Regions from separate parts of the Homo sapiens genome. Here all the other regions are linked to region 2. Evidence: fine-mapped expression QTL. A gene starts in region 2. Each other region holds a variant in brackets. All regions are shown on one strand. Distances are between the middles of the regions.

Region 1 (6,403 bases), 62 kb after region 2:
GGAAAAGCCAGGTTTTCCCTTGTGGGATCCTGTGGAGAATGAGCTCAGACGGATTCCTCATATTCTAATCCGACACCACTGGAGACCTTGACTCCTCCTTCCAGAACGGGAACCCCCTTGTCCAGCGTCACGGATACCGGGCCCCACAGTCTCCCTGCATCTGCATTGACCCTCCACGGAGCTCACAGCAGGGAGGGTCTGCGTGGTCCACCTCTACCCCACGCACAGGCAAACCTGAGAAGGAACGTTTAATCACCATTCACAGCCCTTGCTTCTTTCTAGAGAAATAAAACAAACTTACACCAGAATATGAAAACAACGTGAAACACACAAAAGTTAAGTGTGAGCCCGTGCACTGTGACAGGTGTCAGCAGCGTGAGTCTCGCCAGCGTCAGGAGCTGGAACGTCTTCATCATCCCCGAGTCCTCTGGTCCTCCCTGCCCTTCCGCAGCGGGAGGGTCCACTCTTGTGGGTTCCCAGTCCTCCCTGAACTTCCCCAGAGGGAGGGTCCACTCTTGTGGGTTCCTGGTCCTCCCTGAACTTCCCCAGCAGGAGGGTCCACTCTCGTGGGTTCCCGGTCCTCCCCGCCCTTCCCCAGCGGGAGGGTCCACTCTTGTGGGTTATGTGATTCTAGCTTCCCGCTTTCTGTCCGGAGCCTGCAGAGGAATGGGACCACGAGCTACACGTGGGTTGGACCTGCCTGTTTTGAGAGAGGGCCCTGTCCCTGAGGGTTCATATCCCTTGAACATGGTTGAGAGTTTTGTTCCTTTTCATTGCTGACTTGAAGCCATGTCATGAAGAGCCACAGCTTGGCCGTTTTTCTGATGATGCCCATGTGGGTGGATTTTAGTTCTTACTACTATGAATAAAGCTGCTGTTAGCATTTTGGTCTATTCTTTCTGTAAACGCAGACTTTTATGTCTTTTGGGTAAATTCCTAAAATGCCCCGGGTGAGCTATGTCCACTGAACAAATCCCACATCTATAAATTTGGAAAGAAGACTTTATTTCCTATAAAGGGGTAGGGCCTTCAGGGTGGCCGTCCTGACACCCTGGGCACCTCAGCCTCTGGCAGAGCCCAGGCCGGGCACCTGGAAGGAGGGGGTTGGGGCAGGAGCTTCATGCTGAACAGGTCGGCTAAGGACACACACTCCATGGGTTGCTGGAGGAGCCGTGAACATTCAGGAAGGGGTCCTCACTCATGCATACTGAACAAACATGCATGTGACATGCGTCTCAAGTTTCCTTGGGGGTGGACACGTGATATCTAAATGTGTTCCTGTGAGGCCCTTGCCTGGAAAGGTGAAGCAGCAACACCAAGGCACTCGTTGCACGGCCCCTGAAAACCAGCCAGAACCAGTCCCTGCTGGGTGGTCCCCAGTCAGAATTACAGAAATCAGCCTCTTGGCCAATCAAACTTAGGGCTGGTGGCACAGAAGAGTGGGGCTGTGTGTCAGCATCTGGAGGGGGTGAGCTGCACCTGAGTGAGTGTGGCTTTCCTAGTGGCCAGCGCTGGTTTAGCTGCTAGAGAAAAAGAACCCTCCTGGCCGGCAGCCCCTGGTTTCTGCTTTTCAGTGTCTTGTGCGTGACTCCACCCCTGCCAGGCAGGGCCTCAGGTCTTGTTGATCATTTGCTGTCTTATCACCACAAGGAACCTGTTTTGTCAGTCTCCTCTTTATGTTCACCTTCATGCTGGTGAGTGTGGTGTCCCAACCACAGACGGAGGGGCTGTCACGCGGCGGGTCCCACCTCCCACTCTGTCATGGCGGGATTTTTGTCATGTTTTTCAGATTTCTCTGGAATCCCCTTGGCCAAGAAGGGTCCATTCAGCTTGTTGGTGCGGGAGCTCAGGATTTCATTTTTAGTTCTCACATGGCAGGTGAGTGAAAACGTTATAAGGGACTATCCAAACCTTTCCCGAAGTGGCTGTAGTATCTTAACTCTCACCAGTCGTGTGTGACAGTTTTGGTGTCTTTAAAAGTCGGTGGTGTCAAGATTTCACAACTACCTCTTCTGCTGATTGTGTGGTTCTATCTGTTCGTGGCTTAAACTTGCATTTCCCTCATGACAAAAAGTGTGAAACCATCAGTCATGAACTGTCTGTCCATTCCAATCTCTTCTGTTCATTTTTAAAGTGGGGCTGTGTATCTTTTTATTGATTTATGATCATTCTTTCTATATTCTGGATACAAGATTTTTGTGTGGGATTTGTTTTGCAGTATCTCCCCAGACTTCCTGGTCATTTTCTTTGTAGTGTCTTTTGATAACTAGAGCATTTTCCTTCGGATAAAGCCAAATTGATTATTTTTAAATGTGCTTGTCACTGCTTTTTCCTCCCTGCCAGGAAGTGTTTGTGCACTCTCAGGTCACACAAGAGATGGTAATTTGTCAGTGAGCTGAGGAAGGCAGATCTGGCCTCAGCTATGAGGGTGGGTAGCACCCAGCCCATTGCAGACCCAGACTCCGGAGGTTCCTCTGTCTTCTTGGGCTGGGGCGTCCATCTCCTCCTGCCCGCAGACACAGGAGTTTCTGGGTCCCAGGCCTTGCGCTCTGGGACTGACACCAGCGGTTTGGGCTTGGACTGAATGACGCCACCCGCTGTTCGGGTTCACTGGCTTAGGGACAGCGGTTTGTGGGACTTCTCAGCCTCCGTGATCAAGGAGCCGATTCCTGTAATAAATCTCCTCCTAAACGTATCGCCCAGCAGCTCTGTTTCTCTGGAGAACCCTGACTCACATATGGGGGCCTAGAGGTTTGGTTGTAGCAGGCCCCAGGCCCTGTTCCAGCACCTGGCAGTACCCCCAGCTGATGGGCCCCAGGTGGGGAGGGACAGCCGGCCTGAGGGAGGTGCCTCCTGGGCCCCACCGTGGGCTCCCGTGCAGACAGGCAGGGTGGGGAGCAAGGACAAGGCTGTCCCCTCCTCTGGCCTCCGTCTACAGGTGGGACTTCTTTCCAGCCCTTTCTGTGGGTGGGGGGTGCACACGGGCAGGCCAGCCCCAGGCGCCCTCAGGACCGCACCCTAGGCCTGCCCTGGGGGGAGTGGGGATGGGGCTGGGGCCTCACCTTGCTCAGGACCCAACCCTGGTGCAGCTCCACTCCTGGCTTTTCGCCTGCAGGACAGAGGGGCCTGGAGTGGCCTGGCCCTGCCGTGGGCAGCATGGCGTGGGCATGCAGGTGAGGCCTGCCTGAGGTGCCCAACCCCCTTTCTGCCAGCTGGGGCTTCCAGGTTCAGTGGTGTGTCTTCCTGTCTGGCATTTCAGAGAAGGGCTCTGCAGATGTGGGGGCTGGCTGTGAGGACACAGGGAGCCTGGGAAAAGGGTGGGAGAAGGGTCCCTGTGGCCACAGGCCACCCGAGGAGGGGCAGGGCCAGGCTCCTGTGGAAGCTGTTGCGGGCCCAGGGGTCTCTTTGTCCAGGCGGGAAAGGCTTGGAGCACAAGGCACAGGCCCTTCACCCCTCAGCCAGCCAAAGCCTTGAGGGCTGGTCACCCCCCGACGAGCTCAGTCCCCTCCAACGGTGCTGCCCAATACTGGGCCTCCCACACCGCGTCCCTCCCCATCTCCACCCTGGGATCCTCAGACACCCACACACACAGGCAAGGGGAGAAGCCAGGGCACCCCTAGGCTTGGCAGAGTGCAGGCTCCCTGCTATGTTGGCTTTGCTTGGTCCCTCCAGGGGAACCAGGAGCCTGTGGGTGAAGGAAGCTGACCCTGGAAGGGCCTGGGGACGTCTCTGGACCAGCCTCACCCTGGCTTTGATCTTTGTTCCAGGGCGCAGACTGACCACTCTGTTCCCACACCTGGCTCAAGGTGGGT[C/G]GAGGGCCTTCCCAGCCTTCTCAGAGCTAACCCAGAGGAGTGCACAGGACAGGTAGGCAGAGGGTTCAGGGGCCACCTTCCAATGGGGTGAGGCTGAGGAGAGGGTGCTGTGAGCTGAGCAAGGACCCCACTCCATTTCAGCTCGTCTCCCCCGAGAGCCACAGGGAGTGCTGGACCCGCCTGAGCGGGGGGCATATGGGGCTCAGCACAGCACTGTGGGGCCTGGATGAGAAGCCGCTGGTCTCTTCTGCCCCTCCCTGACATTGAGGACTGGAACCTTGGGGAGCCTTGGGTGAGGTCGCCTCCCAGGAAGTCCTGAGCTGAGACATCGCGGGCCCATTTTGAGGTGGCTGTGAGGGGTACAGGTGAGTGTACTTGGGGTTCCTTCAAGGCCAGGCCCAGCAGGTCACCTGCAGAAGGCCTTGGGCAGGTGCCCCCCACCCCGTCCTGGAACACCATTCTTCCCCATCGCCCCAGAGGACCAGGCCCAGGCAAGGCTGGGAATGCTTAGCCGACCTGCTCAGCATGAAGCTCCTGCCCCAACCCCCTCCTTCCAGGTGCCCGGCCTGGGCTCTGCCAGAGGCTGAGGTGCCCAGGGTGTCAGGACGGCCACCCTGAAGGCCCTACCCCTTTATAGGAAATAAAGTCTTCTTTCCAAATTTATAGATGTGGGATTTGTTCAGTGGACATAGCTCACCCGGGGCATTTTAGGAATTTACCCAAAAGACATAAAAGTCTGCGTTTACAGAAAGAATAGACCAAAATGCTAACAGCAGCTTTATTCATAGTAGTAAGAACTAAAATCCACCCACATGGGCATCATCAGAAAAACGGCCAAGCTGTGGCTCTTCATGACATGGCTTCAAGTCAGCAATGAAAAGGAACAAAATTCTCAACCATGTTCAAGGGACATGAACCCCAGGGACAGGGCCCTCTCTCAAAACAGGCAGGTCCAACCCACGTGTAGCTCGTGGTCCCATTCCTCTGCAGGCTCCGGACAGAAAGCGGGAAGCTAGAATCACATAACCCACAAGAGTGGACCCTCCCGCTGGGGAAGGGCGGGGAGGACCGGGAACCCACGAGAGTGGACCCTCCTGCTGGGGAAGTTCAGGGAGGACCAGGAACCCACAAGAGTGGACCCTCCCTCTGGGGAAGTTCAGGGAGGACTGGGAACCCACAAGAGTGGACCCTCCCGCTGCGGAAGGGCAGGGAGGACCAGAGGACTCGGGGATGATGAAGACGTTCCAGCTCCTGACGCTGGCGAGACTCACGCTGCTGACACCTGTCACAGTGCACGGGCTCACACTTAACTTTTGTGTGTTTCACGTTGTTTTCATATTCTGGTGTAAGTTTGTTTTATTTCTCTAGAAAGAAGCAAGGGCTGTGAATGGTGATTAAACGTTCCTTCTCAGGTTTGCCTGTGCGTGGGGTAGAGGTGGACCACGCAGACCCTCCCTGCTGTGAGCTCCGTGGAGGGTCAATGCAGATGCAGGGAGACTGTGGGGCCCGGTATCCGCGACGCTGGACAAGGGGGTTCCCGCTCTGGAAGGAGGAGTCAAGGTCTCCAGTGGTGTCGGATTAGAATATGAGGAATCCGTCTGAGCTCATTCTCCACAGGATCCCACGAGGGAAAGCCTGGCTTTTCCCTGTGCAGATGCCAGGCCTCTACAGGTTCCAGAAGGTTCCTCTGCTCCTCTGAGAGGGCAGGGCACTTGCACAGGGAACAGGCAGCCGAAGGCAGCCACAGCCCTACTGGAACCAGGGTTTCTCTGCCTCCTGGGAAGAGGTCAGTGGATGGGTTGGGGAGGGGGACAGGCGGCCTTCCTGTGGGAGTCGAAGAGCCTGGGGCCTCCCCTCCTTGGAGGCGACCAGACACCTTCCCTAACTGGAGGAAATTCTGAACCCCAGACCTGGAAAGTTCAAAGCTGAAATAAAATCGCCCCTTGTTTTGCGAGCTGCTGCCTCCTATGTGCCCTCAGGCAGGTCCATTCCCTCCTGGTCTCAGTCTCCCCAGCTGTGCCAGGGGGACGCCAGGTGGGACCCAACTGGGTTTCCAAAAACAAAAGGAAATTTAAGTCTCAGAGAAAGGGGAGCTTTGGGCCAGGTTGGGGGAAGGGCCTCGGGTGCTGGAGTGAGTCCTGGGGGAGAAGGAAAGGGCTGCGGGCGGGACATCCAGAAAGTCCCACATGCTGTACCATATGGCCATGGCTGGTGTCCCAGTGCTTGGGTGCAGACTCACTGGACAGGATCCATGCTGCAGGGTGACAGACGGCCCATCGCAGGGCCCACAGGGCTCATGTCCCATCCCCTCGGGGTCCGGAGCTCTGGATGGTCCCAGCCCAGCTATCTCCCACTGCAGACGCCCAGGCTCAGCGCCTTCTCCACGCAGCTGTGGGTAGCTGGCCCCTCTGCAGGAAATTCAAGTGAATGGCGATGGCACTTTCGGTTTTCATCTCTGGAAAGCGCTTTCGGGGCGGGAAGGTGGGAGGGACGTTGATGTGAGGCGTGGTCCTGAGTTCTCCTGAGGGCAGGTGAGGGCAGTACAGGGCAGGGAATGTGGGGCTGGGGCAAGGGCTGCTGCCAACTCTTGA
Region 2 (5,016 bases):
CCGACAGGGCAGGAAGCAGATAGAGTCCCACAAGCACAAGCCCAGTGCGCAGAAAGGGTTACTTAAAAAATAAGTTCTGTGATAAAATCAAACAGGGTGAAGGGCTGGAAACAGGTCATGAGGGCGCAAACAGGTCGTGAGGGCGCAAACAGGTCGTGAGGGCGCAAACAGGTCGTGAGGGCGCAAACAGGTCGTGAGGGCGCAAACAGGTCGTGAGGGCGCAAACAGATCGTGAGGGCGCAAACAGGTCGTGAGGGCGCAAACAGGTCGTGAGGGTGCAAACAGGTCGTGAGGGCGCAAACAGGTCGTGAGGGTGCAAACAGGTCGTGAGGGTGCAGCTTTGGGGAGAGAGGGGCCCTGGGGGTGAGCGGGGAGCTAGGAGAGAAACAGCGCTCTGGAGGGGCCCGGGCAAGGCCTGCCTGAGTGGGAGGGGGCAGAGCACGAGGGCCCAGGCTCCAGGCTGGGTGGGACTGCCCTGAAGTGCCTGCGGAGACAGCCAAGGGGCAGATGGAGAGAGGTAGGGGGTGGGCTGGGGACAGCGTTTCCTGTACACAGGTGGAACCTGGTGGCAAGGGGCCCTTCCCAGAGACAGTCAGAGTCTCTAAATGTCCAGTTTCTTCCCCAAGTCCACACAGCCCAGAAGAATCCGCTGGGACCATGTGGCCCTGCCCAGTGGGGCTTCCCTTCCAGTGTGTGAGGAGCACAGGTGCCAGGCCACGTCAGGGAGGCCAGGCCTGGTGGGGACGGGGTGCCCCAGGCCACTGCTGGGGAGGAGTGATGCCCAGCAGAGGGGGCACGGTGGAGTTCATGGCTGGCCTGGTGGTGGGGGGGGTGGGGGAGCTCTGCAGGGCCCTGGCTCTGGTGGGCTGGGTAGGCCTGCTTGGGGCACCATCTGATCTGCCAGAGGTGGAAGGAGCACTCCTGGGAGATGCCGTGCCCTGCACCTCCAGTCCCTGCTTGACGGCGGCCGGGCTTGGACTGATCAGGTGCCGTGCCTTCTGCTGACCCCAGAGGCCAGACCCTGTGGCCAGAGTGAGGGATGGATGAAATCCCAAATCTGAGCCTCCTGCCCGAGGATGAGGCCCCTCTCCAATGAACATCATGGCCCATGGAGACTGGGCAGGGAACCCAAGGGCGCACACTGGGGACTGGGCCTGGAGGGACAGCCGGGGAAGCAGGAGGAAGGGCAGGAAGGACAGCAGGAGGAAGCAGGAAGAAAGGGACAGGAACCAGGCCCGGGATGACAGCAGAGAAGGACCAATGCCCAGCCAGGGCTTCCTCACGTGCCTCTGGGTAGAGAGCCCTGGTCTGGCTCAGGAGGCCCAGGCACTGGTCTCAGACCTGCCACCACCTGTGTGACGCTGGGCCAAGCGCTTCCCTTCCCTGGGCGTCCGTTTCCACCGCTGTAAAGTGGGGAGGGGTGAAACTGAAGCTCTCCCCAGCCTATCCCAGCCGTTGAGGAGGGAGAGGCTGTGGTCAGGGGCTGTGGGGCCCACGTTGAGGAGACGAGGCTCCTGCCCTCAGGGTGGACAGGGCCCAGGAAGGGGGTGCTCTGCACCATGGGGGCGCAGCCTGGGCCTACGGGCTCCCCCACCATGAGCTCAGAAGGAAGATGTCCGCTGAGGAGTTGGGGGCCAGGGAGAATATTCTAGACCAGATAGGGGTGGTCTGGGTAGGCTTCTGAGGGGGTGGGCTTGGAGGAGGGGCCGGTGGCCAAGTCGGGGGGAAGCAGGGGAGGAGCCAGCCTGCCTGCGTGTGCCTCTCACCTGTGTGCATTGGCGTGTGCATGTGTGTGTGCATGTGTGCCAGCGTGTGTGTGTGTATTGGAAGGCGCCCACGGAGCGTGTCTGCATGAACCAGGATGAGTGTGCGTGCTGCACCCTGTCTTGGGGCTGGGCATGAGGCGCTGGGGAGGGCGAGCTGACCGCAGACCCTGGGAGGGCTGGGCCCTGGGAAGGTTTCCGAGATGACAGGGCAGAAGTGGGCTGGGGAGGAGGAAGGCTCCGTGGGCGGGGCTGGAGCGTCTCTGGTTTTGCTGTCTGTCTCTCACGCTGTTTCCAGAACAAATGTGTGCCCTCAGCAAGGATGCTGGCTCTTCAGAGGTGTCAGCACAGGCAGCCGGCACCCCACTTCCCTCCCAGAAATCCCCCACGCCCTCTAGCTGGGGCTGGTGCAGGAGCAGTGGGGAACTCCTGTTACCCCTGACCTGCTGCCGTCAGTCAGCCGCCCGCCCCCCCACCTTAAGGAGGGGCAGAGTCAGGGACCAGCCCTGAGGGGTGGCTCACCCCAGCTTCACTTCCCCCAGCCCTTCTCAGACAGCCACTGTGCAGGCTTTGGCAGCGGGGGTCACACACTCCACCCGGGAGGCCAAAGCTGCCTGCAGGTCAGTGCCGCCCACTGCCCTAGGGGCCTCCCAGCGGGGCAGGGGCATGGTGGGGGTCTCAGAGTGGGGTGAGGCTGTGATGGGGTCTCAGAGCAGGGTGAGGCTATGATGGGGTCTCAGAGTGGGGTGAGGCTGTGACGGGGGTTCTCAGAGCGAGGTGAGGCTGTGACAGGGTCTCAGAGCGGGGTGAGGCTGTGATGGGGGTCTCAGAGCAGGGTGAGGCTGTGATGGGGTCTCAGAGTGGGGTGAGGCTGTGATGGGTGTCTCAGAGTGGGGTGAGGCTGTGATGGGTGTCTCAGAGTGGGGTGAGGCTGTGATGGGGGTCTCAGAGTGGGGTGAGGCTCTGATGGGGTCTCAGAGTGGGGTGAGGCTGTGATGGGTTCTCAGAGCAGGGTGAGGCTGTGATGGGTTCTCAGAGCAGGGTGAGGCTGTGATGGGGTCTCAGAGTGGGGTGAGGCTGTGATGGGGTCTCAGAGTGGGGTGAGGCTGTGATGGGGGTCTCAGAGTGGGGTGAGGCTGTGACGGGGTCTCAGAGCGGGGTGAGGCTGTGATGGGGGTCTCAGAGCGGGGTGAGGCTGTGATGGGGGTCTCAGAGCGGGGTGAGGCTGTGATGGGGTCTCAGAGCGGGGTGAGGCTGTGACGGGGTCTCAGAGTGGGGTGAGGCTGTGATGGGGGTCTCAGAGTGGGGTGAGGCTGTGATGGGGGTCTCAGAGCGGGGTGAGGCTGTGATGGGGTCTCAGAGCGGGGTGAGGCTGTGACGGGGTCTCAGAGTGGGGTGAGGCTGTGACGGGGTCTCAGAGTGGGGTGAGGCTCTGATGGGGTCTCAGAGTGGGGTGAGGCTGTGATGGGGTCTCAGAGTGGGGTGAGGCTGTGATGGGGAGTCTCAGTGAGGTGAGGCTGTGTTGGGGTCTCAGGTGGGCTGAGGCTGTTGGGGTCTCAGGGGTGGCTGAGGCTGATGAAGACTTGGAGCCTGTGTCTGGGTAGCAGCTTGTTGGAGTGTGGGATGTGACATTTAAAAACAAGAATGAAGAATACCCCGTGCTGTGGCCCCGAGGTGAGCAGCTACTTTGGTGAACTCGTGTCACTCACAGCCCCATCCTGGGTCCTGGGGTGTGGTGTGCTGTGTGGGGCCCAGGCCCAGTGGGGTCACAGGTACGGGGGACTCTGGTGCCTGGGCCACAGGGATCTGCACCTCACTGCGTGCCCCCACGTCTTCAGCAGTGGTTGGGGCCTGTGGTCTCAATCCCAGGCCAGCCAGGCACTCTGGGGTCTGGGCGGGTCCCGGGTCCAGACAGGGGGAAGGGCTGGGGAGGGGCTCTGGTGTGGCTGGATCGCCCGTCTATGGCCAGGTTTCTCTCCTGGATCACTCAGTGCAGAATCAAAGGGCACTTTTCTGCTTTTGTGTGCAGAAGCCGAGGGTGACCTTGTCATCAGAAGGGGAAGCGGGGCCTCAGAGGCGTGCTGCTGGCTCCAATCCCCAAAGCCTCCTGGGCAGGAAGTGGAAGGGCCCCATCCCCACGGTCCCCGGCAGCGGGAGCTCCCTGAGGCTGATGGTGCTGGTGTCTGTCGAGGAAGACAGGCCTGAGGAGCTGAGGCGGGAGGCCAGCTACGGTCCACGGCCTGGACACAGATTCCTGTGCGGGACTGGGGCAGTAGGTGGGCATCTGTGCTGGCCATGTTAGCTCCCAGGGGCCCCATGCCATCTGGGCTAAAGCCTGGGCCTTGATTTCCTGAACTTTTCTGGGAGGCACTCCACGGGCGAGACAAGGACCCATGAACAGGGCACTTCTTCGAAGCCTACGTGCACCTCGAAACTCTTGCAACATTTGCATTTTTCTCCCTAATAGTTCAGTGTTTGTTTTATTATAAACAGGAAAATTTAAATGTTGTAGTTAGAGTTTTTTTCTTCTTCTTAGAGATGGGGTTTCACTCTGTCTCCTAAGGCTGGAGTGCAGTGGTGGGATCATAGCTCACTTCAGCCTCAACCTCCTGGGCTCAAGCCGTCTTCCTGCCTCAGCCTCCCGAGTAGCACGCATCACCAGCCCAGCTAATTTTCTGTCTTTTTTTTTTTTTTTTTTTTTTTTTTTGTAGAGACGGGGTCTCCCTGTGATGCCCAGGTTGTTCTTAAACTTCTGGCCTCAAGTCATCCTCCTGTCTCAGCCTCCCAAAGTGTTGGGATTACAGGCATGAGCCACCGTGCCTGCCTGCAGTTAAACATTCCCCCACAAAATACTGGGCCACACCGAGGCTAGTATGAAAGTTGCAGCCCTGGGTATGTGTGACCTGAGAGCCCCTTGGCAGCCATGGGGAGCGATGGGGGAAGCTGGGGCAATGGGAAGGGGTCTAGGCACACGAGCCCTCGGGTCCTCACCTCCCACGAGGCAGGGTCCCAGGCTGCCTCTACTCAAGGTGGGGCAGCAAAAGAATCGCCCTCTAGCTGTGCAGACCCCCTCCCCCTCCAGGTCTGCACACCGCCCAAGGCTGGCCCTGGACTTCTGGTGGATTCAAGTACTCAGGTGGGGAGAGTAGGAGGCCAGTCGCACGGAGCCCTCCCCAACGCACAGTGCCTGCCCAGCTCAGGTGCCTCTGAGGTGTAGATTCTGAGCAGGTTCTGGGATCTCCTGGCCCCCAGC
Region 3 (6,501 bases), 22 kb before region 2:
AAACTTAGAATCATGGCGGAGGGAAAGCAGGCAGTCTGCAGGTGTCTGGAGAAGGAGGAAGAGAGCGAAGGGGAGGTGCTGTGCACTTTTAAATGACCAGATCTTAGGAGAACTCACTATCACCAAAACAGCAAGGGGGATATCCGCTCCCATGATCCAATCATCTCCCACCAGGCTCCTCCAACACTGGGGATTATAATTCGACATGAGATTTGGGCAGGAACACAAATTCAAACCATAGCACCCAGTGAGCCTGATTTGGGCCTTGCTGCCGGATCACGACCATCTCTGGAGTCCTGGTGTCTGTTCCCACTGGGACCTGTGCCGCTGTCCCCCTCTCCACGCCCTGGCCACGCCAAGCCACCCTCCTGACTCACCCACAGGAAGCTGCCCTGGCCCTGGAGCCTGCCCCGTGAGCCCCTCTGCTTGCTGGTTCAATGGCCCTCCAGCAGCAGTGGCTGTGGCAGCTGGGTTCTCGGCATCTTCAGACACGGATTCTTGAGCAGCAGGATGGGGCTCCATCTCCCTGCGTGCAGAGCCTGCCACAGATCTCCCTCATCCACTGGCTTCTGTGCTGACTTCGGATGAAGCCAGTGGTGCCGCCTATTGGGGTACAGCAACTCAGGGCGAACAGTGAGGGGCGGCTCACCAAAGAAATACCCCGCAGGGCAGTGCCCAAGCCAGAGGCTTGAGCTGGGTCGGAGCTGCCCTAGATCCCTGGGTTTGTGGGCGGACAGGTCCTGTGCAGGGCGCCTGATGGTGCAGGTTGAGGTGGGACAGTTGGGGTCAAGGTATTTCTCAGGCACAGTGCCTATGAAGGGAAGACAGTTGCAGGGACTGTGTCCATGTCAGGATAGACTGGTGGGGACCCCGTGAAGAGTTCTGGAGCAAACCCTGCCTGCAGGGCCCCACCTGGGCTGGCCAGGCCCTTATGTTGAGCATCCCTTCCCCCAGGCCCTCAGGAGCCACTGTCCCCGAGGCAGGCCCTGAAGGTGGCGGCCACACCCTCCTGCTGGGCAGCTCTGCCCAAAGGCCACAGCCAGGACCTGCTTCCCGCGTCCCAGGCTACTGCCTGAGAGGAGGCCTCGAAAGCGCAGGGTTCCGTGACTTTAGAGGCCATGGTTGGCACCCATCATCGCCCCAGTGTAGATTGGCTCCACTCGACCTGGCTGCTTTGGCCATTTGGTCTACCAGCTGGAACCATGTTCCTGGGTGTGGAAAACGCTCCCTCCGAAGCCTGCGGAGAGCCCTGAGGCCTTGTGCTTCCTTCTGATGGGAGGTTCCAGATGCAGTTGGAGGGGATGTCTGGCAGGGCTCTAACCCCCAGCCAACCTAAACATTTCTGGTGCAGAAGGCCCCGGCCTGGTGTTGTTTGTCCCTGGCTGCCTCCTGCTCTGACACCATCAGCATCCTGTTGCCAAGGTCATGGATCAGTGCGGTGCTCTTCAGGGTGTCCGGCCAGCTGGGGTCTCTGTCCTGTATTCCGGCAGAGGCCCCAGGAGAAACAGCAAATGCCTTTGTCCATTCCATACAAATTTCATATAAATGTGAGCAGCTTCTGATCTTCCGTGGCGTATTCGTCCAGTTGATGGCCAACCCTGGGTACCTGGACCTCCAGGACCTGCTGCACTGGGCTGCCCCTCGGCTGTGTGTGCACTCGCCACGTGGCCCTCCAGGAATCCCATCCCACGGGGCCACACTGAACCAAATGGAGAGAGCAGGGCCACCACCCTCTCTCCGCATGCCACGGCTGCTCTGGGACCCGGGCAGGAGGGGACAGTCTTGGCCTTCCAGTGTCCCTCTTGGCCTTCCCACGGCCATCTCTACCCCAAGGATGCAGCAGAGATATCGGTCGCTCCCCAGGTGTCAATCCCAGTCACAGGCTCAGAGACCGGGACATGGCCCCGGGTGGGTCTGTAGGCCCTGTGGGCTCATGTGAGCTGGTCCTGGGCAGGACTCCATTATTAACTGCCTGTGATGTGTCCCACTGTCATGGAGCCCTGGTGACTCTTGGGGACCAGCATCAGCTTGGGGCCTGTGTGCTCAGTGGCTCCCAGATGCCTGGATATTCTCTTCCTGGTGCACATAGTCCCCGGGGAGGTCCTTGTCATGCACACTTGCTGATGTGGGGAGTGTCCTTCATCTTGCAGGCCTGGCCACCTCTTCAGTCAGCAGATACCTGGGCTGAAAACCGACTCGGGCAGTGTGGGCCCAACTGGGGCTCTATCGGAGTGACCACCCTCAGCCCTCCTGGACCCCTCTGCCGGCTCCACCTGAGCGCTGCCCTCGCTGGCAGCCCTGCCTTGCTCTGCTGCCATTCCGTAAGCCCTGCAGGCAGGCCCCTTGGCGCCCTTCAGCCGTGTTCATGATTGTCTCCTGGCCTCTGCTGTTTAGAGGTCTAATGCCCTCCGCCCCCGGCGAGCCAAACCCAGTGATGGTGGTTCCTGCCACCAGCTTCCTGTGGCACCGCTGCCACTCCCGCCAGGCTCCTGGGGCACCGCCACCACTCCCGCCAGGCTCCTGGGGCACCGCCGGCCACTCCCGCCAGGCTCCTGGGGCACCGCCGCCCACTCCCTCCAGGCTCCTGGGGCACCGCCGCCACTCCCGCCAGGCTCCTGGGGCACCGCCGCCACTCCTGCCAGCCTCCTGCGGCACAGCTGCCACTCCCTATTAACCAGCATGGCACAGGTGAGCGGTGTGACCTTGGTCTTCCCAGGGAACCAGTGCTTGGCAGCTCACACCACACACGCCTACGCCTACCCTCCACCAGCCACAGCAGTTGTGGCATCTCTACCCTGCCCAGCAAAAGTGGAAGTGTTGCCTGTGCCGCTAGGAACCTCCAGGTTTGCTCCACCTCCAGGGGCCTTGCCAGGGTGTCAAACCTGTGTCTCGGGACACTGCTGTTAGGTCTCCAGCTTCCCTATCAGGCGCCTCAGCACCCAGTCCTACCAGTGCTCCCGCCTCCCGTCCCCAGCTGGCTGGGCCTGCAGCCCCCTCCTGTGCCCCGAGCTGGCCGGGCCCGCAGCCCACTCCCTGGTCACTGGATGTTGCTGACACTTCACTCGGTCAGAGCCCTAGCACCCAAGGGGGGCCAGGGCCTGACGGGGGTGGAG[C/T]GAGGGGTGGGCCGCGTCTGTGCAGGCTCAGAAGCTTCCTAAGAGGCTGGAGAGTGGAACCTTCAGGCACCACGCACTGCCTCCTCCCTGCCCACGGTCCTGGTTTCTCCAGATGGGGCCTTGGCCTTGGCTAGGTGTTGATCAGGAGCTGGGAGTGCTGCGCCCCGCCCAACTTCTCCAAACTCCAGCCAGGGCACCTCAGTGAGGCCTCAGCCACCTGCGCCTTATTTGCTTCCTCCTTGGAGGCCCTCGTGTCTGTTCATTCATCAAACAGCAGCTGGGGCCCCCAGCAGACCCCCTTCCCCAACTTTCCCACTGGACACTGGAACCAGTTTCACAACTGGACTGGACAGGACGACCACCTTGTGCCAGGCGCCAGCTATCTCCCCTGACCAGTGATGGGTCCTCATTGCCCGTGGGCCGTGAGTGACCCAGTTCCAAATCCCAAATTAGTGACTCTCTTCTCCAATGGGGGTTGGATTCTCCAGAAGCAGAGGCAGACATAGAATTTGGGTGCAAGGTATTTCGGAGGGAAGGTGGAAGAGGTGGGGTTGGTGAGGGAGAAGCCTGGAGTGTCGGTGGCCGGGGTGCCCCCACCTGGCTGAAACGCCTGGTCTTTGTGCCCTGCCTGGCTCAGCCTCCCCAGGCAGACTACCCCATGGCATCCCTGGACAAGGCTGCCCCCAAGAACGCTGCCCACAGCCCAGCCATGGGCCTTCCCTTGGGGCTACCGCCCCGGCTCACACCTGCTGGCCAGCGTATTTACTCCTTGCTGGCTGCACCCTCTCAGCAGTGGCTGTGTAGACCATAACCCTGGGAACACCTGCGGGGAGAAGCGCCCTTGGCCTGGCGGCTTGGGGGAGACACCTGGGGTGTCAGGAGGGAAGGAAGGCAAGCAGGGGTGAGGCACTGTGGGACTTTTCCTGCTTTCTGGGCCAGTGGCCACAGGCCACCCAGTGACATTTCTCTCTCAGCGTCTGCTGGGGTGGACTCTGCAGCGGCTGCAGCCAGCCTGGATCGGCTCCTCGCACAGCTCTGCTTGAGGGTGAAGGCCATCTAGAAACCCTCAGTCCCCTCTCAGCCTCAGAGCTGATAGCGCTGCCTGACCATCAGCAAGCTTGTAATCAGCACCACCTCCAGCATGCCTGCTCCTGGATCTCCGTGAGGCTCCCCTGCCTGTGTCACCCAGGGGCCTCTAGGGGTGCTCTGGAGCTGGGAGCCACTGTCCAGCACTTCCTGCCCTCTCCGGCCTCTCTTGGCTGTCTGCCAAGCAGTCACTCAGTCTCCTATTGACCACTCGTTTTGCCGCAAGGCTGCTGGTTTACGTGAAAATAGAGAAAGCCAAAGAGTTTCCTCACCCCTGTAAGATTTACTGGCTCTTCTGGCATTGCACCTGCCTGAGTTCCTTGGTGGGGCCCCTCTTTGAGTTCCTTTGGGCTGCTGTAACAAAGCACCATAGCCTGGGCAGCTCGTAAACAGTGGAAATGCGTTGCTCTTTGTTCTGGAGGCTGCAAGTCCAAGATTGAGGCACTGGAAGACCTGGTGCCTGGTGAGGACCTGCTTCCTGGTCCAGAGACAGCACCTTCTCTCTGTGTCCTGATGTGGTGGAAGGGCAAAGGAACTCCCTGGGGCCCGTTTTATGTGGGCACTCATCCCATTCGTGACGCCTCTGCCTTCATGACCTCATCACCTACCAGAGGTCCCCACCTTTTCATTCCTCACCTTGGGGATGAGGACTTCAGTATGTGAATTTCGGGGACATAAATGTGTCATCTATAGAAGGGCCCATCTCTTACACAAATGCTGGGTCCCCAGTGGCCTGTGTCCTAGCAAATGAGAGCCACCCTGAAAAATAAAATCCTGTCTCCCCAACGCCAGCCCTGGCAAGGCACCCAGAACTCTCCGGAATGCTTGAAGGCAGGGCCTGGCCTTTCCATGGGGTCCAGGGCTGTGGGGTCCCTGGCGGTACTGTGGGCCTGCAGAGTGGGGCATGTGGGCTGAAGACCGTCTCCCCACCATGGTGGGAAGGGACAAAGGGTGGCCCTGGCAGATCCGGACGGGCAGGACTGGGTGTGTCCCATGAGAGCACCTCCTTCCTGGCCTTTCCTGTGGACTTTGTCCCACACCACCTGCCTGGGTTCCTTCCTTTAGTCACTTCCAGCTCCAGGCACAGCAGTTGGTGACTCCTTGGTGGGAGCCGTGTCCCACCCGGTCCTGATACTGCCGTCTTCTCTTTCACAGTCCTCCAGGCTTGGGCCAGCCTTGGGGGCAGCAGAGCTTCTGGGGTGAGTGTCGAGATCCTGTGTCCTGAGAGCGGTAGTCAGGGAGAGGGCTGGTCGGGGCAGGGCTGCCCGGGCAGGACACAGGATGCGGCCGGCCAGGCTGGGGCCAAGGTGTTCAGACCTGGACTTTGGGCTCGTGCTTTCTTCATGGTTGCGCCTTGCTCGCTGTCCCTTGGAGTCTTCATTTGGTTTTGCTTTTTTTGTTTGTTTGTTTTCACCTAATTTTTGCCAGACTTAAGCTAGTTTTGCTGCCTTTTGAAACTAGTGGAAGAATCATTTTATTCCTGGGGATAATTTGGGGCCTTTTGATCCCAACGTGAAGCCCTGCACATGGCTGCTTCATCAGGGGAAGGGTCTTTTCTGCTTTGGAGGAAAGGCTTTGGCAGGCAGGCTGACCTGGGAGTCTCCGGAGCTCTCGGCTCTCTGTAGCATCCTGGGGAGCTCAGACCATGGCTGCAGGGCTCTGGCCATAGCTTGCAGGCCATCTGGTTAGTGCTGCCCCCCAAACCCGGCCATTCCTCTCTAGTCCCCAGCAGGTATAGCCAGTGTCCACATAGACAGCACTGCCTCAGATCTGGGCTGGGACCACAACACTCACTCAGGGATCCCAGGGAACATGGCACCAGGTTTAGTAGGTTTAGTCGGGCATATGCAGTGTCCCTTACCCAGGTCAAGGCTCAGGCTGGGCCCATCTTAGCTGCCTGGGACACCCAGTCCTTTTATGAATCTGCCAGGGGAGGAGCAGCCAGGCTTGGGCTGGGGCCTGGATGGACGTGACATCGGGCACTGTGGCATTGTGTGCCTGTCTCTGTGTTGCAGCTGACATGGGCTCATTGCTCCTTCTCCAAGCCCTCTGAGGACATCAAAAGCGTGGACGCATCACTTTCCACCATCTTGCTGCCCACTGTCCCTCCATCCTGAGGCCTCCTAAGCACATGTGTGGGGTGGCAGGCACACTGCTGATAGCTGTGGATGCGGCCGTGACATCCTTCACCCCTGCCCCCATGGCATGCATGATCCATTAGGGAGGACCGTCTGCACAAAGGTAATCCATTGACTCAGACAGGGGGTTCATAGAAGAACAGGTGAGAGTGGCAGGGGGGGTA
Region 4 (6,268 bases), 34 kb before region 2:
CAGGGGCAGCAGATGGCTGTTCTGCTGTTGTGAATGCTGCTGAGTAGTTGGGGAAGAGAGTTGGGACCAAGAGAAGCCCAGTGGGTTTGATAACATAGAGGTGACAGCGACATTGATCGAGGCAGTTTAGGGGCCATGATTGGCTCAGAAGCTAGAGGAGCCTGTGTGGAGAGTGAATGGGAAGCAGGTAGTGGGCATGGCAGCTCTTTCAAGAGCTGTAATGAAGAGAAGCCTGAAGGAGACTATGGTGCTGAGAGATAATGTCTTAAAGAACATGGGGGTGGGATTCTGCCCGGGGAGCTGGAAGGGAAGGAGTTGTGAGAGGAGCCCAGGCTCTGAGGGCAGGAGAGAGGGTCAGGTCCAGAAGCAGGAGGCAAGGTCGAAGCTCAGAGGGGTGGGCAAGGGCAGTGTGGATGTTTTGAGTAGACGGGGAGAAAGGGGAAGGTATATGATAGTTAGGGGGTGTGGGAAATGGAGCCTGCTAGAGAAACAGATTTCCAGCAGGATGGAGGACACATTTGAGATTTACCAGCATGAGTAAAAAGTGAAACTTTTCGAAGCCAACATTTAGCTGTTTTGAGAAGGAGCTTGCTAGAGTTTGGGATTTTTCCAGTAAGGAAGGAAGGCACCCCAGAATTAAGCTGGACAGAGGCATTTGAAGCCAGGAGCTGAAGGACACCCGCTGCAGGAAACCACCTTCCTGTCCCTTTTTGGGTAACACTGATGATCGGAAAAGCTCCACCCCAACTCCTGTCATCTAGAGCCTTGGGTTCTTAGTTTGAAGGGTTCCACAGCAGGCATGATCTAACTCTGGACAACTTTCTGTATCTCAGGAGATTTGTGCCACACCCCGGCTGTTTCCAGATGACCCACGGGAAGGGCAGGTGAAGCAGGGGCTGCTGGGGGATTGCTGGTTCCTGTGTGCCTGCGCCGCGCTGCAGAAGAGCAGGCACCTCCTGGACCAGGTGCGGGGCCCCTTCCCTGTGTTTGTCCTGGAGCCGGTTTCTTTTTGCGTTTCTCCAGCCTGCTGAGTACCAGGAGGCCTTGCGAAAGCAGAGCTGTGCCGCAGCCGGATCTCCTGCTGTGTTGGGGGAAGGCAGGAGAGTTCCAAGGCAGAGGCTGAGGACTGCACTCTGTCCCTCTGCTGCAGGGGGGGGTGCCTTGGCCTCGCCAGAAGGCTCCATCAGGGAGGTTCGCCCTGCTCTGTGCTCTCCTGACCCCCGGACTCCATGGAGTCAGATCACCACGTTTAGAATAAAGAGACAAATGTGCCAGCTCACAGGAGGACGGGGCTGGCTGGCAGCCTCTGCCTCAGATCTCTCCTCAGCTAGCTCGCTGGTTTTCTTACAGGTTTTGAATATAAGTTTGCAAAAAGTTATTAAACCTGTTTCTGTGGGTAGACAGATACTCTGGGAGGAGAAGGCCTTCTCAGGTTTTCCTTACCTGGGAGTGTTCACCGTTTTATGCTTGGCTTGTTGCTAAGTGTTGCTGATTAATGCAGCGGCGTCAACAGTGTGACCTCATTCAGAGTTTCACTCATGTCCCAGGCCCCATGGTAAGCGTGTCACAGTCACTGGCTTTCAGACACATGGTCTTACCAGCTTTGACTTTTTTTTTAAACGAGAGTGCTAAAATCACTGCCATTGTGTTTCTGGCCGTAAAGTGGCAGAGCCAGGACCGCACCAGGTGCCTGGTGCCCAGCCTGCACTCCCCCGATGCTGGGTCAGAATGCTTACCCCTGAAGGAGCCCTGCGGTGGACGCTGTGGGTGCAAGCAGCTGGCCCAGTGTCGGGGCGCCAGGCTCCCAGCAGCAGGAGGGGCTGCTGTTCCTGTGGTGACGTGTTGCTTGCAGCCAGCTCGGTCAAGAACTGGGTCACTCATGCCCTTGAATGTCACATTTGTTTTGGCTTCAGGTCAGATGCTTTTAGTGAGGGCAGCAGAGTGTGTCCCGGGATATGTGGCTCCCTCGGTGTGGTCCTCAAGTTTTGCAATGAGAGGTCTGTTAATTTCATGTGGGTGATGCAGCCCTGTGCAGGCGCCGACATCCAGGTGTGCCGAAGAGTTCTCTGCGACATCCAGGTGTGCCGTAGAGTTCTCTGCGACATCCAGGTGTGCCGTAGAGTTCTCTGCGACATCCAGGTGTGCCGTAGAGTTCTCTGCGACATCCAGGTGTGCGTTAGAGTTCTCTGCAGACCGCGGTGCCTGTGGAGCACTCAGCTGTGGCCACACCGCGGCCGGGACACTGGAGTAGCGCCGGGTGGTGCTTATATCACGCTCGCCTTTTGCTTCTCCCTGTGCATGGCAGGTCATTCCTCCGGGACAGCCGAGCTGGGCCGACCAGGAGTACCGGGGCTCCTTCACCTGTCGCATTTGGCAGTTTGGACGCTGGGTGGAGGTGACCACAGATGACCGCCTGCCGTGCCTTGCAGGGAGACTCTGTTTCTCCCGCTGCCAGAGGGAGGATGTGTTCTGGCTCCCCTTACTGGAAAAGGTCTACGCCAAGTGCGTGTGCTGGGGGCTGAAGGGCCTGGCCTGGGGCAAGTGGGAGCTGCCACTACCATGGGCTGCCCCAGGAGGGTCTCTGCTCACTCTGGGCTGCAGAGCCCCCTTCAGTTCTGAGGGTCTGGCAGCTCATTCTGTGAGTCAGGCTGACAGGCCAGGTGCAGAGATTCTTCTTTTGGGCCTGTGGATTGCCCACTCCCTGCTTTCCCTTCCCTTGTTCCAAAGCCCAGCGTGGAGTCGTTCTCCACAGAGAACATGTGTGCCGTCCTCCTTATTTTATCGGCCCCAGCAAGAAAGATGCTTCTTTATATTTGTTGTGGAGTGGTTGGGACAGGCAGACTCATTGTGTAGTCGTTGGGGAGGAATGAGGCTACCCCAGCATACCAACACTTGTGTATCACGGTGCTTGCTGGCTCAGGGGACCAGGACCCTCACCATGAGTCATAATTGAATAGCCTTCCCTCTTAGAATGCATTTGTCTTCTTGCCAAAGGCAACTGGACTGACAGGCAGGCAGGGAAGCTGGTGAACATGGGAAGGCTGGCTGGTGACATCAGTGCCCAGTGAGCCCTTCCATCCCAAGGGCTGTTTTAGGAAAAGCAGGGTTGGAGCTTGAGAGCCAAGGGATGTGGGCATCCATAGCTTCCACGCCTCCTGCCCTGCTCCTGTGCCCACACCGGATGCCAGAGAGTTTCTGTGTGTGGGCAGAGGACTGCAGGGCGCTCACGCTTGCTGTGAAGTAAGGCGTTTGAAGGTGAGGCTAAGCCTTGACTTGGTGAGGATGAGGAAGAAGGCAGAGGGGAGTAAAGAGGTGGGATTGAGGCAGCGGTTGGACGATTTGGGGTGCTACAGACCATGGGAATCAGAGAGGGGGCCATGCTCAATGCCAGAGGCTCACTCCCATGGTGATTGTGTCCCCTAGGGTCCATGGGTCCTACGAGCACCTGTGGGCCGGGCAGGTGGCGGATGCCCTGGTGGACCTGACCGGCGGCCTGGCAGAAAGATGGAACCTGAAGGGCGTAGCAGGAAGCGGAGGCCAGCAGGACAGGCCAGGCCGCTGGGAGCACAGGACTTGTCGGCAGCTGCTCCACCTGAAGGACCAGTGTCTGATCAGCTGCTGCGTGCTCAGCCCCAGAGCAGGTGAGGCACGTGGCCAGCATGGGAGGGCTGCAGCCAGCGTGCCCCCCACTGCCAGGCCTCAGGCACACTGTAGCTTTTTATGTGACTGGCTACACAGCCCTGTCAGGACTAAGTGGGAAGAAGTAAGCTTGTTCTCAAGGGTGGTGTCCTCAGTTTGTGACCTTCCCCTACTGTCCTCTTCCAGAGGGACGTGGCCCTTCTCTCCCCTGACCAGTCCTTTCCACTAGTGCGAGGCAGGAAGAGGTGGCACCGAGTCAAAGCCCACTGTCTGTGCCATCCCTGGCCCAGCTGGCAACCTGGCAAAATCAAAACCTGTTTTTTATTTTAGTGATAGATAACATTCGTTAAAAACAGTTTGTCTCCAAAAAATGAAAGGGGCCAGGTGTGGTGGCTCACACCTGTAATCCCAGAACTTTGGGAGGCTGAGGTGGGAGTATCGCTGGAGCCCAGGAGTTCAAGAGACCCGCCTGGGCAACATGGCAAGATCTCATCTCTACAAAAAATGAAG[G/GA]AAAAAAATCACTTAGATGGAACCACATGTGACTTTTGAGTGCGCTCTCAGTTTTCCATGAGCACGCACGGTTTACGTGTTCCCTTCCGCACCGCTTCTCACACTGCCACACACGCGCTGTCAAATGTTCGCCCCATGAGCGGGTTTGCCACAGTCTCTTAATCATTCCCCTGATGTTGGATATTAAGATCTCTCTGGTTTTATATAATTATAAGCAGTATCAATGAACATCTTTATCATTTTTTTCATACTTAGGATTATTTTAAAAATATGGGTTAAAGAATATGAATATCACAGTAAACTGAAACAAGTTGTCATAGGCCTTGGTCTGGGTCCCCCATAAGCAGACCCTGAGATGAGGTTCAGGAGCACGTTGAGAGGTTCAGAGAGCCTGGAGGGCGTGTACTCCCCGCCAGCCCCGCTGGGGTGCCAGGAAGGACGCTGGCCTCAGAGCCTCCCACCTGGGAGTGAGGGCGCTGGTCTGGTGGGCATTAGCTCGGGGAGCTGTTGGTTTTGGGTGCTCCAGGGTGGGGTAGCGCTAAGTCCTAGCACTTCAGGCTTTAGAGGAAGCCCCCAGGCAGAGAGAGATGGCAGCTGGCACTGACTGGAGGTGCATTGGAGCCTGCTGAGGTGGCAAGGGGCCGCGGCGTGGGCGAGACTGAAGTCCTTCCAGGAGACCCTCCTCTCTAGACCGTTGCCCCGCCACAGATGTGGCCTTCCTCTCTGTTTGGCTCTTTCTTTTCTATGCCCATCTGTCTCAAGGTCTCTGGCCAGGTGGAGCTGTTGCCCCCCTGGGCCTCCATGCCTCCAGTGGGCTTCTAGCCAGGGCACTATCTGAATGTCCTACCTCTAGCAGGCTTTGCCAAGAGAAACACTCTCTAGATTTCTGGCAGTTGCAGATGCATCTGTGCAGCATGTTTGAGAACTGGTGCTGTGCCAGGCATCGTGCACAGATGGGTACGGACGATGACTGAGGCCTAGAGAAGGGGATGACTTACCCAGCACCAGACCCGGATGGCAGCCGAGTCAGGCCCCGTGTGCTTGCTCCTGGAGATGCTCCTGAGCTGATGGGTCACAGCTGCTAAGAAAGGAGCTCTCGTGGTCCATGGGGATCTGGGGTCTCCCGTGTAGCCATAGTGGGGTGGGCTGGAGCATCTCCAGAGGAGGAGGCAGAGGCCTGTGTGTCCTTGTCAGTTTGGGACTCCATGGTGCCCTTCCTGCCTGTGCCTGCGCCATTCCTCATGCAGGTGCCCGGGAGCTGGGGGAGTTCCATGCCTTCATTGTCTCGGACCTGCGGGAGCTCCAGGGTCAGGCGGGCCAGTGCATCCTGCTGCTGCGGATCCAGAACCCCTGGGGCCGGCGGTGCTGGCAGGGGCTCTGGAGAGAGGGGTGAGTGCTGGGGCCTGGACCATGCTGCTGTCGGGAGGGGGGCCCAGTGCCAGTCTGGCCTGTGTCCTGGTCACCTTCAGCTGTCAGGACTGTACTTGGCTGTCTCCAGCAAGGCCCCTGAGTCCCTGCTCTCGTGACACCATGCTTGTCTTGGCTCCAGGCAATCCTTGTGAGGCCTGGGACCAAGGTGGCCATTGGGCCTGGGGTTTCAATAGGGCAGACATCATCACGGGCTCGGGCAGCAGTCCTGGGAAGACGCATCCAGAGGCGTGAAGTTCCTCTGGGAAAAGAGAGGGCTCCAGGGTGGCCGCTGCCCAGAAGGCCCTGTGCTGCAGAGCTGCTTCGGGTGTGGGAGGGGCTGCAGAGCTGGGGCACGGGGTTGCTGGCAGGAACTCAGGGCTCTCTGGGTCCCCTCCAGGCTTCCCCCCAGCCTGCCGGCAAGTTGACACTACCAGTTCTCGGGAGGGGCTTCTGCTGAGATGAGGTTTCTTCCAGGGGTGAAGGGTGGAGCCAGGTAGATGCAGCGGTAGCATCTGAGCTCCTGTCCCAGCTCCAGGAAGGGGAGTTCTGGGTGGAGGAGGAGGAGTTCCTCAGGGAGTTTGACGAGCTCACCGTTGGCTACCCGGTCACGGAGGCCGGCCACCTGCAGAGCCTCTACACAGGTAGTGCCCCGAGGGGCTGTGCTGGGCACGTGCTCTGCCTGCCGAAGTGAGGAGGCTGGGCAGGTGCC
Region 5 (6,501 bases), 24 kb after region 2:
GAGGGTGAAGGCAGCCGCAGACAGCGGAGGATGACACGGACAAAGGCCAGGCTGAGCTCCCGTGACCCTGTTTACAGAAATAGGCAGTGGCCCATCTGGTTGTAGTTTGAGACCCCGGCTCTGTGTGTCCCAACCCAGGAGGGGCTGCCTTGGAGGCTCTTCCCGGCTGCCCTGCATGAGCTGTAGTGTTCATGGAAGCGCGGGAAGAATCTTTGGCCAAAGCCCCGGCTCCCCCTTGGCTCCAGGAAGAGGCAGCCGGAGCCCTGCGCGTGTCCCTGACACCTCGGACCAGGGAGTGGAGGAGGGAGAGTGGCTGGGCTTCCAGGGCAGAAGCAGCACCCCCAGAAGAGGTGGCCCATGAGGAGCACGGGGGGCTTTGGGGTGCGTGGTTCCTCTCGGAGCCAGCGGCCCCTGGTCCCGAGCGAGTGTCCTCTGAGCGGAGGCTCGGGCCCCTGCCCTGGGCGCACTCAATGCCCCGCCCGCTGGTACCCTGAGCAGAGCAGCTGCCGGTGGCGGCGCGGGGCCTCCTGTCACACCCCCTCTGCATGAGCTGGGCTTCGTTGATGGAGCTGGAAGCTTCGCAGTAGCGGAATTTGTTCGTACAGGACCAAGCCCAGCTTTTCTAAGGGCTGGGGTGAAAATAGGAGGGCAATTTAAGTGCCGTTCGAGTTGTGGAAAGGATTAGCTGCTGAGCGTCAGGCAGCAGGCTCCGCGTACGGTCCTGGGCAAGGCCAGCAACGCAGCAGGGGCAGGAAGCTCCGGGCCGGGAACAAACAGGACACGCGCTCTGGCATCTCGGGGGGAAGTCGGCCTGGAATGGGGCAATAGGGGGGTTGGGATGAACTGGAAGGCAGAGAGGGGCTCTGAATTACTGGCGGTGAAAGCCCTGTGTCCGCCCCCTCAGAGGCAAGCATCCCTGTAGGACCATCTGGGGTCCTTGTGAAGCAGGCCTGTGCCCCCACAGGTGATGTGACTTTCGTCTCTGCTAGTGACAAGCTCTGACAGCGCTTGAAGACTGGAGGGAAGTGGACATTGGCGACTGAGTCCAAGTCACACAGCAGCCCCACTGACGCAGCTTTGAGAGCCGTGGCTGCCTGTGCCCCTGCACACGCTGGAGTCTCCAGGCCAGTGCCCACTCTGCCCTGAAGGAAGCAGAATTGTCAGCTCCAGCTGTCACGGGTGTGGCCAGGCAGTGGCTTGGGGCAGAGGTGGCCAGAGAGGGGGTGGGGGTGACAGTTTAACCTCTGAGGTCCTTTCCACACCCAAGACCAGACATAGGAAGCGGGAGGTGAAGGCCACATAACAGGGAGGGTTGTCAGGGATCCTGGAAAGTCTTTGTCACTGTTGTTTTGCCTGGGGCAGGACAGGCTGAAGAGGGGCAGGTGTGACCTGTGAACTCTGCTCAGGGCCCCTGGGCACCTGTTGTGTTAAGGTTAGGGGGGCCTCCCAGCAGAACATCCCAGGGAGATTCACTGGAGGAGAACGGGCCCCACGCCCTTGGGGTCGCAACTGAGTTCAGGGTCCCTGCTGGATGTCCAGTGGCCTGTCCCAACTCTAGGCACCCCCTAAAGCATGCTCTGGGACACCCTGGTCCTGAGAGATGATAGGGTGAGCGGCCTGGGAGAGGAGAGGCACTTTGGGGAAACAAATCTGGGCAGCTGGTTTGCCTGGGGAAGACAGTGAATGGGGCTGGCTTCCAGAGGTACTCAGAAGCCGGTACTGTGGCACCAGGTTTAAGAAAAGACAAGCTTTGCTGTGGGTCAGCAACAAGGAGACAGGATGCAGCTCACATCCATCTCCCCTTCCTGGCCTTAAGGCAGTGCCGTCATTAGGAAAGGTCTGGGGTGGGTTCTGGGATTAGCGGGTGATTGCCGGAGGGAAAGGGGAGGTCTGAAATGTCCCCTGGGCATGTGCAGCTGTGTCTTCGTGCCTCTGCAGGGTCACATGTGCTGATTCAGGGGCAGTGAGTATGAACGTGAGGTGGAAATTTGGGCCGTGATGTCAGCAAGCTGCTGCCCACTCCAGCCGGCCCTTTGGGTCCCCAGGATCTCAGGCAGTTTTATTCTCACAAGGAGGGAATTTCCAGCACGCTGCTGCTGTTCTTACCTGCCGTCATGTGAGCTCAGGAATCCCCGCTGTCAGTCACCGGTCTTTTTAACCCTTCGGGGCACGGTGTCACCTCCCCTCCCCGGCCCCAGCTGCTTCTCCTCCAGAGCTGGATTCAGGACTGAAGGAGGGAGGGAGGCAGCACCGAGGCCAGGTCTCCCACAGGCAATCCCCAGCACCCGCGATGGATGGACGAGGGAAGGATGTTTTGTGGAAACGGTATTTCCCAAACATTCCTAAAAATCAAGTTTTAGTGAGTTGAACATAACTGGTCTTCTAACTACTGTATATTCATCTCTGGGTCCATAGAAGAGAACAGTGTTTCTGCATCTCCCCAGATGTGAGACGGCTCCTATAAAACCCTCACCGAACTTCCCTGGTGCAGGGTCTTAAAAGGCGGCCACACCCAAATAATGTCCTTCCCTTGTCAGAACAGAAGGAAAGGAAACAGTGCCCCCAGGAAATTCACTTCCAAATGAGCTTCGTGTAGAAATCACTACCCCAAGAACTAGAATTCCGTCCAGCTTCAATAGGACCAATTGTGTAATCAACTCACCACCACAGTGGAACCAAAGGAGAGGGCAGGAC[A/G]GGCTGAAGAGGGGCGGGTTTGACCCCCGTACTCTGCTTAGGGCCCCCAGGCCCCTGTTGTGTTAAGATTAGGATGGCCTCCGAGCAGAACATCCCAGGAAGATTAACTGGAGGAGAAAGAGGCCCCCAGCTGCTTCTCCTCCATGTGAGGAAGATACATATTAGCTCCAACAGGAGGTCCAATATTAGCTCACAAGAGAGGGAAAATGGGTTTCTGACTCACTGAAACTTGCGATTTGGGAAAAAGATCAATGAGAGGGCAGGGGATGAAGGACCTCTGGTTCCTGGATGAAGAGACTTATTAAATAACAATGACACAAATATGCTTCTTGCAGTATTCGGAAATCAAATAATGTGGAAATGGTTTACTAAGATTCACATTTACATAATGTACATTTATAAAACACTACCCTAAAAATTACATTAGGTCTCCATTTGAGATATTGTGTAACCATTTCATAATAACAAAAAAAAAAATAAAAGAGAAAAACATGGAAATTATTTTAGAAGACAAAGTTCTTGCTGTGTTTCTGGATAACTTTATTACACTAATTAACAACAACAAGATAATGTAATTACACTTCCCACTAGTGGGAGGGCATGAAAGCCCTTAATCACTGGGAGTCATGTTTGAGGAACCTGCAGGACATTATAGAAGAATTATAATCTGTTAGATTTCCACTTAAGTCGCTGAATGATCACTCAATAGCCACAAAACTAACAGAGAAAAAAATCAGCATCGCTTTAGTAGAGAGCAAAGCGTCTTGCGGTGGTTCTGGGTCTTTGGAAGTGGGCTCACCGGAAAGTGGGGTCACTCGGAGGCGAGACACTTCTGCTGTCAGGCTGTGTGGACAGCTCTTGGTGTAGGCACATTTCTCTGCTCTTCAGTGGAGGAGATTCTGGGCCAGGGCACCCTCACAGGGGAAGACTCCTAGCAGTGTCTTCCTCCCTTTCTGGAATCTGGAAAAGGACAGAGTCCTCTTCCTAGGAGCTGCACCCCAGAACCCTTAGGACCCTCTAATATGTGGCAAGGGGATGAGGAGAGGATGGAGCTGGGTCAGCAGCACCCTTTCCTGTGGGAGGGTTGGATCAAGGCAGCCAAACTGTAGGTGGTTCCGGGAACACAGGATCCACAGCCTGAGTTCTGGTGCCTGGCCTCTGGGGTGGGCCCACGTGAGGCTCTGGCTCCTGGGCCTGGGATGTGTGGTCCACCCTGGGCCCTGGAACCCAGACCTCACCTGCCACAGCCAGGTGCTCCTGCTCCTCAGGCTTCCATCACCGCGAGGGGCCTCTGGCAGATGCACCCCATGCAGCATCAGGGACATGAGGATGCTCTGGGAATCCTAAACTCCTTCTTCCATAATTTTTATCTCACACGTTGTGCGGTAAAGAATTTAACCTTATCCAAAAAGATGTCTAGCCCTTCCCTTGGCTTCTGGAAGGTCATGTCTAAGCCCTTAGAATGTCATGACTGATAGGAGTGTCTTTGTTTACCTTTGTTTGCCTTGGATAATGCCAGATAGTCTAACAAGGTGATTTAGGGTGGTGGCGGGCCACACTTGATAGTATTTAGGTGGGGGCTAACCACCAGAAAGACCGACAATGTGATTTAGGGTAGGGGCTTTTGGTCACACATCTCAACCTCCTGAGGGCTGGAGTCTAAGGTCAACTATGTGAGCAATCAGTCAGTCAACCAATCAATCAACCATGCCTACATATTGGAGCCCCAGTAAAAACTCTGGGCAGAGAGCATCAAGTGAGCCTCCCCAGCTGGCCGTGCTGCAGGTGTGTCACCACACGTACATGCCAGGAGAGCAAAACTGGCCTGACCACACAGGGAGAGGACAACAGAAGCCTCTTGTTCTCCTGGATTCTGCCCTGTGTGCAGCTTCCTTGGCTGACTTGAAACTGTGTCCTTCTTCTGTGATAAACTGTAACCACACCTATAACAGCTTTCGGTGAGTTTTATGAGTCTTTCTATCAAATTACAGAACCTGAGGGTGGTGTGGGGTTCCTGGAACTTGTAATTGGTGTCAGAAGTGAGAGTGCTCTTGAGGACTGTTTTCTCTGTCGTCACATTTGGCTAAAGCTCTTGGAGTTGGAGTTGGAATTGGAAGTGAAATTCACTAGAATGACCCTGACTCACTGAAACGTGTGGTTTGGGAAAAGGATCAATGAGAGGGCAGGGGATGAAGGACCTCTGATTTCTGGATGGCCATGGGTCACGTGTGGTATGGAGCTGCAGCCCTGCTGTGGTCAGTTGCAGGAGGTAAAAGTTTCCAACAGAATTTGGAAATGATGGATCCAGATCCCCAGGAACTGGCTGGCCGGATGAATAAGGAAATACAAAGTAACAAAAACCAAGCTACATATGCAATCTCTTGGTTATTGTGTTCCCTAAAAGCTAAAACAAAAGTTAAGAGAGGGTGAAAGTAAAAGAGAGATCCTTCATCCCCTGCCCTCTCATTGCTCCTTTTTCCATACCACATTTTTTAGCGAGTCAGGGACATTCTAGTGAATTCCACTTTCAGCTGCAGGAATTTTATCAAACTGTAAAGGCAGAGAAAACAGTCCTCAAGACCACTCTCATTTCTGACAATTACAATGATAGGCTATTACCACGGAGACACAACAGTAGGCTATTAACTACTAACAGCCCGCTGTTGACCCGAAGCCTTACTGATAACATAAATAATTAACACTTATTTGGTATGTTATAGGTATTATAAATTGTATTCTTCCAATAAAGTAAGCTAGAGAAAATAAACTATTATTAAGAAAATCATAAAGAGGGGAAAATACATTTACAGTACTGTACTGTATTTATCAATATCATTAAGTTTTCTGTCATCTGTTTACAAGATGAATTGTCTCTCTGAAATGGCACAACCGCACCTGCAGACCTCAGTACGTATCCAACAATTCAACTTTTTTCTTGTAATGTCATGACTTTTCTCTGCTTCTTGGGCACTTCCAGCATCACTAGTGGCACTTCATATGGGTCCACTGTGAGTTATTGTTTCTGTAAAAGCTGAAATGAAAGCAAGAGAGAGGTTCTGAGCCTGAGCCAATGGGTAGTGAGGCCGAGGTGGTTGCCTTGGGGCCATGACCGATGGGAAGGTTAGAGGGAAAGGTAAGGAAGATGTTGGGCTGAATCCTGACATTGCACCAATCCTGGGTTCTGGGAGGTCCAAGCTATAGTCGCTGGCCTCAGGGCCAAAGGAAAAAGTTGTGTGGAAACAACAGATTGTGGGGAAATTCAGACTGCTTTGCAAAAGAATGAGGAAAGTCAGGTGGGAGAGTGAAGGAGCCCATCCCAGCAGGTGAACATCCTTCAACAGTTATTAAGAAATGGAAAGAACATGGCCGGGCTCAGTGGCTCATGCCTGTAATCCCAGCACTTTGGGAGGCTGAGGTGGGAGGACCGCTTGAGGCCAGGAGTTTGAGACCAGCCTGGTTACATAGCAAGACCTCATCTCTAATTAAAATAATAATAATAAGCCTGGGCGCGGAGGCTCACGCCTCTAATCCCAGATCAGGAGTTCGTGACCCGCCCGACCAACATGGTGAAACTCCGTCTCTACTAAAAATACAAAAATTATCCAGGTGTGGCGGTGGGAGCCTGTAATCCCAGCTACTCGGGAGGCTGAGGCACAAGTATCACTTGAATCCAGGAGGCGGAGGTTGCAGTGAGCTGAGATCACGCCATTGCACACCAGCCTGGGTGACAAGAGCAAAACTCCATCAAAAAAAAAAAAGAAAGAAAGAAAGAAAGAAAGAAAGACAGACAGACATGGGCAGAGCAAA

Evidence for each region. PIP is the estimated chance that this variant, and not a neighbour inherited with it, causes the effect.
Region 1: its variant is fine-mapped to the expression of GPR35 in whole blood (GTEx, PIP 0.94).
Region 3: its variant is fine-mapped to the expression of GPR35 in whole blood (TOPMed, PIP above 0.99). The same link has a PIP of 0.9 or more in T cells.
Region 4: its variant is fine-mapped to the expression of GPR35 in spleen (GTEx, PIP 0.99).
Region 5: its variant is fine-mapped to the expression of GPR35 in whole blood (INTERVAL, PIP above 0.99).

The regions. Positions count from the first base shown.
Region 1 is chr2:240,684,649-240,691,051 of GRCh38, forward strand. LOC285191 (a long non-coding RNA gene) reads left to right here and starts at 1,686. Exons shown (of 3, transcript NR_149021.1): 1 at 1,686-3,173; 2 at 3,768-3,864; 3 at 3,954-4,474. The variant C/G (reference allele first, on the strand shown) is at 3,813.
Region 2 is chr2:240,623,186-240,628,201 of GRCh38, forward strand. GPR35 (G protein-coupled receptor 35) reads left to right here and starts at 2,295. Exons shown (of 2, transcript NM_005301.5): 1 at 2,295-2,383. RefSeq lists enhancers at 1,492-1,641, 2,249-2,755.
Region 3 is chr2:240,600,173-240,606,673 of GRCh38, forward strand. It overlaps a transcript of GPR35 not described here. Among named protein-coding and RNA genes, the nearest start is that of CAPN10, 17 kb to the left of the region's middle. The variant C/T (reference allele first, on the strand shown) is at 3,114.
Region 4 is chr2:240,588,510-240,594,777 of GRCh38, forward strand. It overlaps CAPN10 (calpain 10), which reads left to right. Exons shown (of 12, transcript NM_023083.4): 2 at 834-965; 3 at 2,306-2,502; 4 at 3,424-3,641; 5 at 5,397-5,538; 6 at 6,034-6,200. Among named protein-coding and RNA genes, the nearest start is that of CAPN10, 4.9 kb to the left of the region's middle. The variant G/GA (reference allele first, on the strand shown) is at 4,150.
Region 5 is chr2:240,646,874-240,653,374 of GRCh38, forward strand. No RefSeq gene overlaps it. Among named protein-coding and RNA genes, the nearest start is that of GPR35, 25 kb to the left of the region's middle. The variant A/G (reference allele first, on the strand shown) is at 2,695.